Linked DNA regions of Homo sapiens: region 2 is linked to region 1. The links come from fine-mapping of genetic effects on gene expression. A gene starts in region 1. The other region holds a variant in brackets. All regions are shown on one strand. Distances are between the middles of the regions.

Region 1 (5,534 bases):
AATATAACCACTTCAAGGATTGAGCTCTAGGACACTGGAACCTTCAGAGATCATGAAGAGGTAGAGGATTCAATAAGAATCTGATAAGGAACAGCAGATGAAATACATGAAAAACAAAGAGTCAAGTACGAGAGAGTGTGAAAGAGCAACAGATTATCTGTGTCTAATGCTGCTGATACATGTACAATGAAGACAGAGAATTGATCACCACATTTGGCAAAGTGAAGATCATTACAGATGCTGACTGTGGAGTGGTAGAGATAAATGTCTGAATGGATTGGGTTCAAGAGACTAGCAAACTCCTGATGCGTCTTACAGCTACAGCAAGATAATTAAAGATAACCTAAAAAAAAGGTGGAGGGTAAAAGCTGGGAGAAGAAGAGAATAATAATACCTTTCCAAATACATCAATCAATTGCAAAATATTTTATTGTGCATCTTCTATACATCCAGCAGTATTAGTCACTGACATCAATGAATTTGTAGCTTCATTTATTCATTTAGGCAACTATTATTCATCAAATGTTTAGTATGTGATGGATATTTAATGGGTATAGCTTTAAAATATTTTTCTCAATTGTTAGCATAACATTTTTTCATTTTTAATTATTACGGGTACATAATAGGTGTATATATGTATGGGTGACATGTGATGTTTTGATACATGCATACAATGTGTAATAATCACATCAGGGTAATGACAACAGGGTGTCATCACCTTGACCATTTGTCACTTCTTTGAGGAACATTCCAATTTCACTCTTACTTATTTTAAAATGCATAATTAATTATTGTTGACTGTAGTCACTCTGTTGTGCTATCAAGTGCTGGGTCTTATACATTCCAGCTAATTATATTTTTGCAACCGTTAACCATCCTCCCTTCCCCACAACTCCCTTGCCTCTGCTACTCTTCCCAGCCTCTGGTAACCATCATTCTACTCTCATATCTCAGTTCCTTTGTTTAATTTTTAGCTCCCACGTGTGAGTGAGAATTTGCAAAATTTGTCTTTCTGTGCTTGGTTTATTTCACTTAAATGTAAAAGGAAAAAGAGATGTTTCTATTTCTGTAATCCTAACATATCAACATTTTTTCACATTCCTTTCAATTGGTGTTCATCTCTCCACAACTTTTACTCAACCTTATTTTGTAAGCCTTTTTCTTTGTAGACATATTTCCATAATATGATAGTTATGATGCAAATATTTTATTCTGTGCGTAGACAGCGTTGGTTAACTAATCATTTTCATTTCCAACCATTTATATTGTGTTCAAACTACAATATACTATGAATATTTGTCTATATGATTATTCATCTTAATGTTATCTTCCTTAAGCTATGAGTAGCCCTTCAATGTCCGGGAATATACATCTGGTTCAATTCTGAATTACTAGCATCTGTTTGGCTTCTAGGTAGTACATGAGACTGAGTAGCGGCTGAGAGCATGAACGTCGAGTGTCTCTAGTCTCATTTTGTATTCTCCACTTGTAGGCCTGTAGCCTTGGTCAAGTTATTTAAATTCCCTTTATCTCCTTTATGAACTGGAGATAATAATAGCACCCTCCAGGTTGTATTGAGGGTTACCTGAATTAATATACACAAAGTCCTTATGATTGCACCTTTTTATTTTGTAAGCACTGTGTAAATGCTTCAGTGTACTATATATATATAAAAGTCTGTGCCCAGAATATATTTAAGGAATGAATAATAAATCAGAAAATGTTTTATTGTTGCTTCATACAGGTAACATTTTAAATTCTTTTGGATTATTTTCTCTTTGGTTCAGTGACAATGTTGTGAGCAGGTGCTGGGTCCCAGGTATCCTGAGATAAATAAAAATTTTGAGCAATTAATTTTCATAAGTGATGTCAAGAAGTAAAGTATCATGAACATTTCTATGGCTCCAATTACACTGATATTTCACCTTAGGAACTGAAGCTCCGCCAGGGCAGGGGCAGCCTCTGAGTTTCGTACTGCTGTGCACCTTTAGCAGCACGGGCACCTGCTGGTTTCATTTCCTTCCCACTCACCTGGGCCCTTTTCTTATTTCACATCTTTTTTCTCCTTTTCCTTAAATGCTTTCTCTGAATCTTGATTCTTGAAAATAAATTAGTAGGATTCAGTTAGGTAGGAGGAGGAGAAAAGAAGATGTGATGAGCAAGAAGATGTGCGAAGACTCGTCAGTCTGGTAGGTGGCTTTGGTTAGGGGGTTTCAGAAATGGGGACAGGTCATGAAGGGCCTTGCCAGTCAGGAAAAATCATGAGGCACTAGCAGTAGGAACACAGCAGAAGGTGCCTGAACAAGAGAGATGACTTAATGAAAGCCTTTATAACGCTTCCCGGGATATATTACAGACTACCATCTACAGTGGCAGAGGGCAGCTGAAGGAAGGCTCTTGCAAAAACTTGGGGAAATGGAAATGAATGAAGGCAAATATTTGTTTTGAGATTATTTCCTTCTATGTAACCTATTAGTTCTTTTATTCGTTCCCCATACATGTATTGAGTGCCTACTTTGTGCCAGGCACTGTGCTAGGCAATGGGTATATTACCAGTGGACAATACAGATTTAGTCTTGCTGTCATGTCCTGTTGCTTGCTCATATGAATGTCAGTTCAAGACAGCAAGAGCTCAGGACTGCGGAGATCGCATCTACATCCTGCCGCGCTCTGTGCCGGCACAGGGTGGTTGCGAAAATCGTGCAGTCTGAATTGATTCAAGGCCTTGCAGCATGATTGCTAAATACGTCGAGACAGGAAGAAAGGGCAGGGTGGCACCGATCTCAACTGCGAGAGCACGATCTTGCAATGAGCGCATGTGTGCGCCTCGGTGTGTAGTGAGGGGCGTAGCTTCCCACAGCGCCTGGCAGCGTGCCGAGCTGCGCTGCAGGACTAACCCTCTCCTTTCCCCGCGCGCTCAAGCCCGCACAGGCGGTGGCAGGGAGCCGAAGGGGCCGAGCGCAGCCTTGCATCCGTCCGCAGGCGGGCCCGGCGCCGCGCCTCCTGGCGGCGGGCGGGACCGTCCAGGACGCCGCCCCGCGGCCGCAGCTCCTGGAAGCCCAGAGCGCCGGTGGATCGCGAGCCAAGGCGGCGGGTGGAGCCTGAGCCGTGAGGCCGTGGCCAATCGCGCCGCTCCGGGGGAGGAGCCCCAAAGGGGGAAAAGAAAGTGCGGCGGAAAGTAAGAGGCTCACTGGGGAAGACTGCCGGGATCCAGGTCTCCGGGGTCCGCTTTGGCCAGAGGCGCGGAAGGAAGCAGTGCCCGGCGACACTGCACCCATCCCGGCTGCTTTTGCTGCGCCCTCTCAGCTTCCCAAGAAAGGTGAGTCTCGCGCCGCCGTGAGGGCTCAGAAGTCACCAAGCCGCAGAATCTCAGGGTAGACGGATTCTTAGAGATCCTATCGTTAAACCCTCCTACTTTACAGAAGAGGAAACTGAGGCACAGAACGAGGCAGCGGCTGGGATAGGTCATACTGCTAGTTAGGACTGGAGCCCGGATTCGAACCCAAACGTTCAGAGACCCATCTTTGCTTTGCAGGGATTTAAGTAACGCGGTTGTGGGACGTCTGCTCGTTGCCGCCCCCATCCTCAGCCCTTTGAGGGGTCTACCCTTGTTTTCCTCCTCACCGCCCCCTCCCCGCTACCACCCCCCGCCCCCATCTCCTCCTTGGTTTCTCCAGACCGCTGCTGGAAGCGCCGAGGACAGAAGGAAGCGGTGTGTCCCAGCACGCCCACTCGGTATCACGTCGCTCTCAGCGCAGAGCTGTGACAGCCTGGGAAAATGCTGCTTGCAGCCTCACTCCCTCTTCCCCTGACCTGCTTTCTCAGAAAGATGCCCCTTCAGAGGGTGTCGGACCAGCTTCTGGAGGAGCGCGGGGAGAGAGGAGCGAGGCCCGGGCGCCAGTGACCTCCTATGGTACTGTTTCTTCCCAGCCCCGGAGGAAGCGGAGCTAGTGGCCCTGTGGGGCACAGGGTGCCCCTCACTTGGGAAGAGCTGACTTCATGGAACCATAGAGCCCCTTCCCTCTTCTAAATACTGAGAGGGAGCAAGGAAGCTGAGTTAAAGAGAAAATCACAAACATAAAAGCAAACTTCGGCTGTTTCCTTTAAGAGCTAGCCCACAGCCTGTCTTCCCTCCACCTTCTGGTTGTGAAATTGTGAACCAGGGCGCCACGCGAAGCATTCTGCTGCTCTGCTGTACAGATCCCTGGTTTAGCTACTGGATGAGAAAGAGGACTTGAGTTTTGACTCCAGCTCTTCCATGTATTAGCAGTGTGAACTTGGGCAAGTTATCTCACCTTTCCGATACTGGGTTTTTCTTTTCTTTCTTTCTTCCTTTTTTTTTTTTCCAGCCAAAAAATGGAGATTTATAATGGTCACAATGAGCCCTTTGGGTAGTTGGAAGGATGAAATGGGATCATTCAAGTAGCATGTTTAGCACAGTGCCTGGCCTGGCATCTGGTTGGTTCAAAACCAATGGCAACTATTGTAAATATTGTTACATAGTAACCTTGCAGACAGTGGGTTTTCAGAAAGGTGATTTCATACCATCTTACAGAGGCATTTTAAAAAAATCTGTAAATGTGGTGTCTTTCTTCTTTTGAATTTGAGCAACTCTTTTATAATAAGAATTTTCTGAATGTTGTCCATATGTGATGTGGATCATGGATGCTTAGCTCGAAATGTAAAATTGATGTTTCTCGGTGATATGAATTTCCTACTAGTTTTTAGGTCAAACCTCAGGCCTGTGAACTGCCCTGATCTGAGACATCCTTTATTGACAAAGAGGGTCTTGAAATGGGTGAGAGGCAGAAAGACAAGAAGACAAAGTTGGAAGTTGCAGCTGTGTTACAGATTATTCTAAGCCTTCTATCCTTGCTCTCTTAGGTCAGTCGAGCAACCTTACATTTTTCATCTAGTATCAGAAAACAAACAAAATTCTCATATATTTCTTTTGGATTGTACAGAGATGCTGCTAAATGCAAACCTTTCTGGACACAAACTTGCCTTATTTAAACACGAACACACAGACATTCACATGCCCACACTAGTCTTCCTGTATTATTGGTATTTTAAAGTTAAATGGATTCCCTCCCACACCCTTAACCCTTCTCATGACAATTGATTTTATTCTGATGAACTTCATGCAATAATTTACTACTATCTACTGGCTTTGCCATGCGTCCTTAAATTGAGTGTCCAGCATTTGTAGTTGGCTGCCTCCTTCACAGGCCATAGCATTTGTATGCAGTATTGGTAAGTGCTTGAGAACAGAGTGTGATACATCTTGATGGAAGATAAGAGCCCAGTGGTGCCCACTTAAGTACCTCCCGCACCAAGCATTAGTAAAGGATGGGATCACCTGCTTCTATCAGCTTGTTCCATGTACATGCATTGTGGTGAGCTGGCTGGGATATGACTGAATGTGTGCCTGAGAGACAGGGGCCTTGTGGGGGAAAAGGAAAATGTTCAAAATAAGGTCAGATCATGAGGATGGAAGGGAGATTAAAAGCTAATTCCTTTGGTTCTGATTCTTC
Region 2 (5,000 bases), 57 kb after region 1:
AAATGGAAACTTCAGCTCAATACACGTCTCTTTTGCTGTGCCTCATTGGCAGTGTGTCAGGAAGCTGAACTGTTAAAAGCTGCCTTTGGAGTAGACATAAATTTTGGAACCTGTGATCCCAAGTTGAGGAGGTAATAAAAATAGCACCATATAGAATATAGTGAATTTAAAAAATATTACCATATCAAAATTATTTGCTGGACAAATCACATGAAAAAGAGAGTACACTGCCACCCCAAAATGCAGGCACACACACGGATCTTTGAGAAAGATTTTATTTCAAAGTCAACAGTTGACTGTGTGCCAGGTGCAGGGCTGGATTTCACACACATTATCAGGAACTTCGCAGGAACCATTGTACAGGGGTAGGGGCTGGAGACTCTTCTACCTGTTTGATAGTTTAGGAAATGAAGATCCAGGGAGGTGGCCCAAGTGCTCATGATAGCCTGGCTTGCCTGATAGAGCCAGGCTGCCTTGACTCCAGAAACAGTGCTCTTTTTTATTTTTCCATACTATAATTGCCTTTCTTTAGGACTGTGCTCTGCTACTAGAAGTAAGATCCTCTGATTCCTTTTCCATTATATTTTACAAAATTGGTAGAGAATGGAAATCATCTATCCAATGATTGGGAGTGAATTATACAATGCAAAATAAATAAATAGTAAAAAACACTGTGGTTTCCTAGTAATTGAGAGATTCAAGTTCTGTTTTACTCTGTGACTTGTTTGATGACAGTAAAGGGGTCATTTCATCACTTTTTGTCATTGCATCCTTATTTATAAACCAAGCCAACCAACCAAACAATTAACAAACAATAGCAGCAGATCCCAGTCAATTCCAGTTTCTTGATTTTTATGAAGGAACACTATGCATCATGGACACACACAGGGTATACTCCTATTAGCTACTTAAATTCTTTCTAATAACAATGTTAACAATGATTTCACTTTATTCTAAAGATCATGCGTTTGACCATTTTAGATTGTAGAATCCAGGGTTAGTAAGAGGAATTTCTTATTTTAAGAGGAATACAGTAAAGTTTGAGAGAAGGAAGAGGAAATAATTACCAAATAGAATTCCGTGAGAGCAGAGAAAGTTACCAATCCTATCAGGAGATATTGGGGAAGACTTAATCATTGCTCCTTCCTAGGAAGAAACGCATCTCTTATTTGGGAATGAAATAGTTCAGGGCAACTCAAAAGATAGTGCAAAGGCATTTAGAAGCCAAGCTGGAAAGGTAGGTTGGGAACAAATTATGCAGGACGGGAATTACTTCAGGTAAAGAGAATGTCCACATTTAATGTATTTTGGTTATAGTTGGCTAGGTTTCTTTTCCTTTTTTTAAATTCTGTCGTATTTTTGCAAGGACATACACTATTATTAATTCTATGTGATGGTTCTTTCACCTTTTGGTAAGAATTCAGTTTGTTACCAGCCCCAGTGGCCTCATTTTATTTGAATATCCTTGCTTTAATAACTCCGTGCTCAGATATACTTGTGACATTGTGTCCTGTCCCAGTTGCCCATGGCTGGTCATCCTGAACACTCTTCATTTCTATGTAATTTAGTCCAAACATTTGGAAAATGTATGAAGAATACTGTTTCATTTTATTCTTAGTCCTAAAGGTCATTGGAATTACAGAATTTCACCCTGTTGTCATTTAAATGATGCCTCTCGGAAGCAGATCTCTTCACTTTTTTTTTTTTCTTTAGCTGTGTTTATAGCTTGAAGCACACTTATATTTTAGTTACTTATATTTCCCAAGGGTGGATTTACTGTAGCCTGATTGAAAAGAAATTTAAGTACCACATAATTGGCTTGATACTGAGTTTGCAAATACACAGCTTCTTGTATCACAGTGATAATTCTAAGTTTAGAAAAATGACCTGGTTCTTTTTCACATGGCTGTGTTAGTTAAAGGAAACCAGTATTTTTGTAGGAACTCCTGCATACCGTTGTAGGAAAAAATGTTTGTTTTACAAGAATTTATTCTACCCTTTGAATTACCTTTGTTTTTGCTATCCTTTCCCTCACTCCCCCAACCCTGAATATTCATTTCTACCATATTTTAGGGACCAGATTGCCACCTTAGCAGTGACTCACTACCAAGACCAGTTTCTACCCACTTTTCTTTCACCACTTAAAAAGTTTCTTTTCTGTTTAACTGATTAACTTTTTAGAAAATAAAATATATACCCACCCAGGATAACAACACAATGATTGCTTTATTTTTAAATCCACTGAGTGCTGCCATCTCTCATTTATTTTTGAGGAACAGTGAGAAAATGGATACATTTAACAAATAATTTGGGAACCTCAGTCACCTTCAAGTTACCTGCTATCCAAACCTATAAAAGCTGATGTACAAAATTTTCTGGCTTTGCCTTTGCGTGTTTTAGAGATAGTGGGAATAATGAAAATGCAAGATGACTACGACAATGAGAGAAAATAAATAAAATAATCACTTCCTCAGCAACCTAGACCATATTCTGTTGTGTTTTATGACATTCATTTCTCCTTCTACCATAGGAACCAAAATGCTTGGTATAGCTATACATTACTGGGAAATAAATAGCACTTTTCTGCAGTGTTTGTAGGGTCTGAAATAGTTTAAGGCTCTTATCCATCAGCCCATTTTTTTTTACTTCTGAGATACTTTCATATTTATTTATTTATTTATTTATTTATTTTTTGAGACGGAGCTTCGCTCTTGTTGCCAGGCTGGAGTGCAATGGTGCGATCTCAGCTCACCTCAACCTCCACCTCC[C/T]AAGTTCAAGTGATTCTCCTGCCTCAGCCTCCCTAGTAGCTGGGATTACAGGCATTTGCCACCATGCCCAACTAATTCTGTATTTTTTTGTAGAGATGGGGTTTCTCCATGTTGGTCGGGTTGGTCTGGAACTCCTGACCTCAGGTGATCTGCCTGCCTCAGCCTCCCAAAGTGCTGGAATGGCAGGCTACTTTCATATTTTTTTTAAAGTGCTCTTTAAGGTTTATAGTAGTGTTCATTTTGATATGTGCACCAAGATACTGGTGTTTGCGTTTCCCCCTTCCCTTATGTAAGAAAATGTTATGGTCTCTTTGAGATTTGGACTTGCCACCCAGTGCTACCAAGACTGACCAATTTAGTCTATTTGCCAATTACGTTTCCTCAGTGGAACCTTCTCCAGGACCTACTGCATACGTGTAGATACTCAAGAGGAAAGAAAAAGAAAACAGGCACATCGATCATGATTTTTTTTATGTGTGATTTTTTCTGTTAACTATTGCTTTTTATTAATTTATTATGGTGGGTTTTATTTTTTCCTAATTACTTACCCTTGCATAAGAAGTATAACTATGGGCCAGGCACACTGGCTCATGCCTATAATGCCAGTACTTTGGGAGGCTGAGGTGGGGAGATTGCTTGAGGCCAGAAGTTTGAGACCAGCCTGCACAAAATAATAAGACCCTGACTCCACAAAAAAAAAATTAAAAAAATAGCTGAGTATGGTGATGCACACCTGTAGTCCCAGCTAATCAGGAGGCTGAGGTGGGAGGATCACTTGAGACTGGCCGGTAAAGGCTAAAATGAGCTGTGATCACGCCACTGCACTCCAGCCTGGGCGACAGAACAAGACCCTGTCTCTCTCTTTCTCAAAAAAAAGTACAACTATAGTTGAAATATAGACCTTTATTATTATTACTAGATGAGAGATTAAATTGTATTTATCATATGTAAAATGACATTTCGAAGTATTTATACATTGTGGAATGACTAAATCTAGCTAATTAACATATGTATTACCTAACATAGTTACCATTTTTGGAGTGAGAAGACTTTAGATTCACTGTTATCACTTTAAAGCAAGCTTGTCCAACCCGTGGCCCGCGGGCCACATGAAGCCCAAAACGGCCTTGAATATGGCCCAACACAAATTTTGAAACTTTCTTAAAACATTATGGACTTTTTGTGATTTTCATTTTTAGATCATCAGTTATTGTTAGTGTTAGCTTATTTTATGTGTGGCCCAAGACAATTCTTCTTCTTCCAAAGTGGCACAGGAGAGCCGGAAGATTGGACACATCTGCTTTAAGGCAAACAGATATACAAATTATTGTTCCCAAGTGGATACCAACCATTATTAATTATTATTTACTGTAGTTTTGTTTGCCCTTTTTTTCAAGGGGGAGAAATCTTTAATTGTTTGCCATAGACTTATCTGATGACCAGATGCAAAAACCTACTAGCTTTAAATTGATGCACCTGAGTTAACCTGAATGCCCTATCCTTCTCTAGCGTTTGGGACTTCAGACTATCCCAAAATTGCTTAATGGACTGATGTTTGATTTTTAGAGTGAAAACATTAATTTTATTCTTATATTTTCAATGTTTTTTGAATTTTTAAATTTATCTGGTCATCTAGAGAAAACTGAATTTCTTATATGACAGATATTTTGACATTCACAGCTTGATTCTACATGTCTTTTTGTCATTTTCTGGTGTCCACTCAAGGTAAAGGCAAATAAGAAAAAAGAGAAGAAGGAGAGAAAAGAGGAATAATGAGGGAGAGAGGAAGAGAGAGAGAGACCTTTTTTTGAAAAAGAGAGATAGTAGGAAAAAGAGAGAGAGAGGCATAAAATGCAAAGAGAAAAATAGAGATAAAATATTCCTACACGGGTTTCCTGGATCTGATGTAAACCCGGCTATATACTTTTTTCAGATTACCAAAGAAGCTAAACCATTTTTAATACCACATTTAAATACTCCCCCCTTTTTTTCCTGAGCTTTGCATTGAATGGTTTCCTTTTTGAACAGTTAATGTTTTCTAGGTTTTTTTGTTTGTTTATTTTACATTCTTACTCTTTCCCTCCTTCCGAGTATATTAAAATGGTGAGAGAAAATAGAAACCTTAAATATTCCAGAAGTTTCCTTACATCTAGTGCCCCTACAGCCATGAGAGTGGTCAGCATGTCCAGGGTTAATGCTTTGTTTTTTTTTTTTTTTTTTTTTTGAGACGGA

What was found.
Region 2: its variant is fine-mapped to the expression of IL1RAP in whole blood (TOPMed, PIP 0.92).

What each region holds. Positions count from the first base shown.
Region 1 is chr3:190,510,901-190,516,434 of GRCh38, forward strand. IL1RAP (interleukin 1 receptor accessory protein) reads left to right here and starts at 3,185. Exons shown (of 12, transcript NM_002182.4): 1 at 3,185-3,319. RefSeq lists enhancers at 2,532-2,621, 3,374-3,875, 3,876-4,375 and a silencer at 2,772-3,121.
Region 2 is chr3:190,567,890-190,572,889 of GRCh38, forward strand. All of the region lies in intron 3 of IL1RAP (interleukin 1 receptor accessory protein), which reads left to right. Among named protein-coding and RNA genes, the nearest start is that of IL1RAP, 56 kb to the left of the region's middle. The variant C/T (reference allele first, on the strand shown) is at 2,769.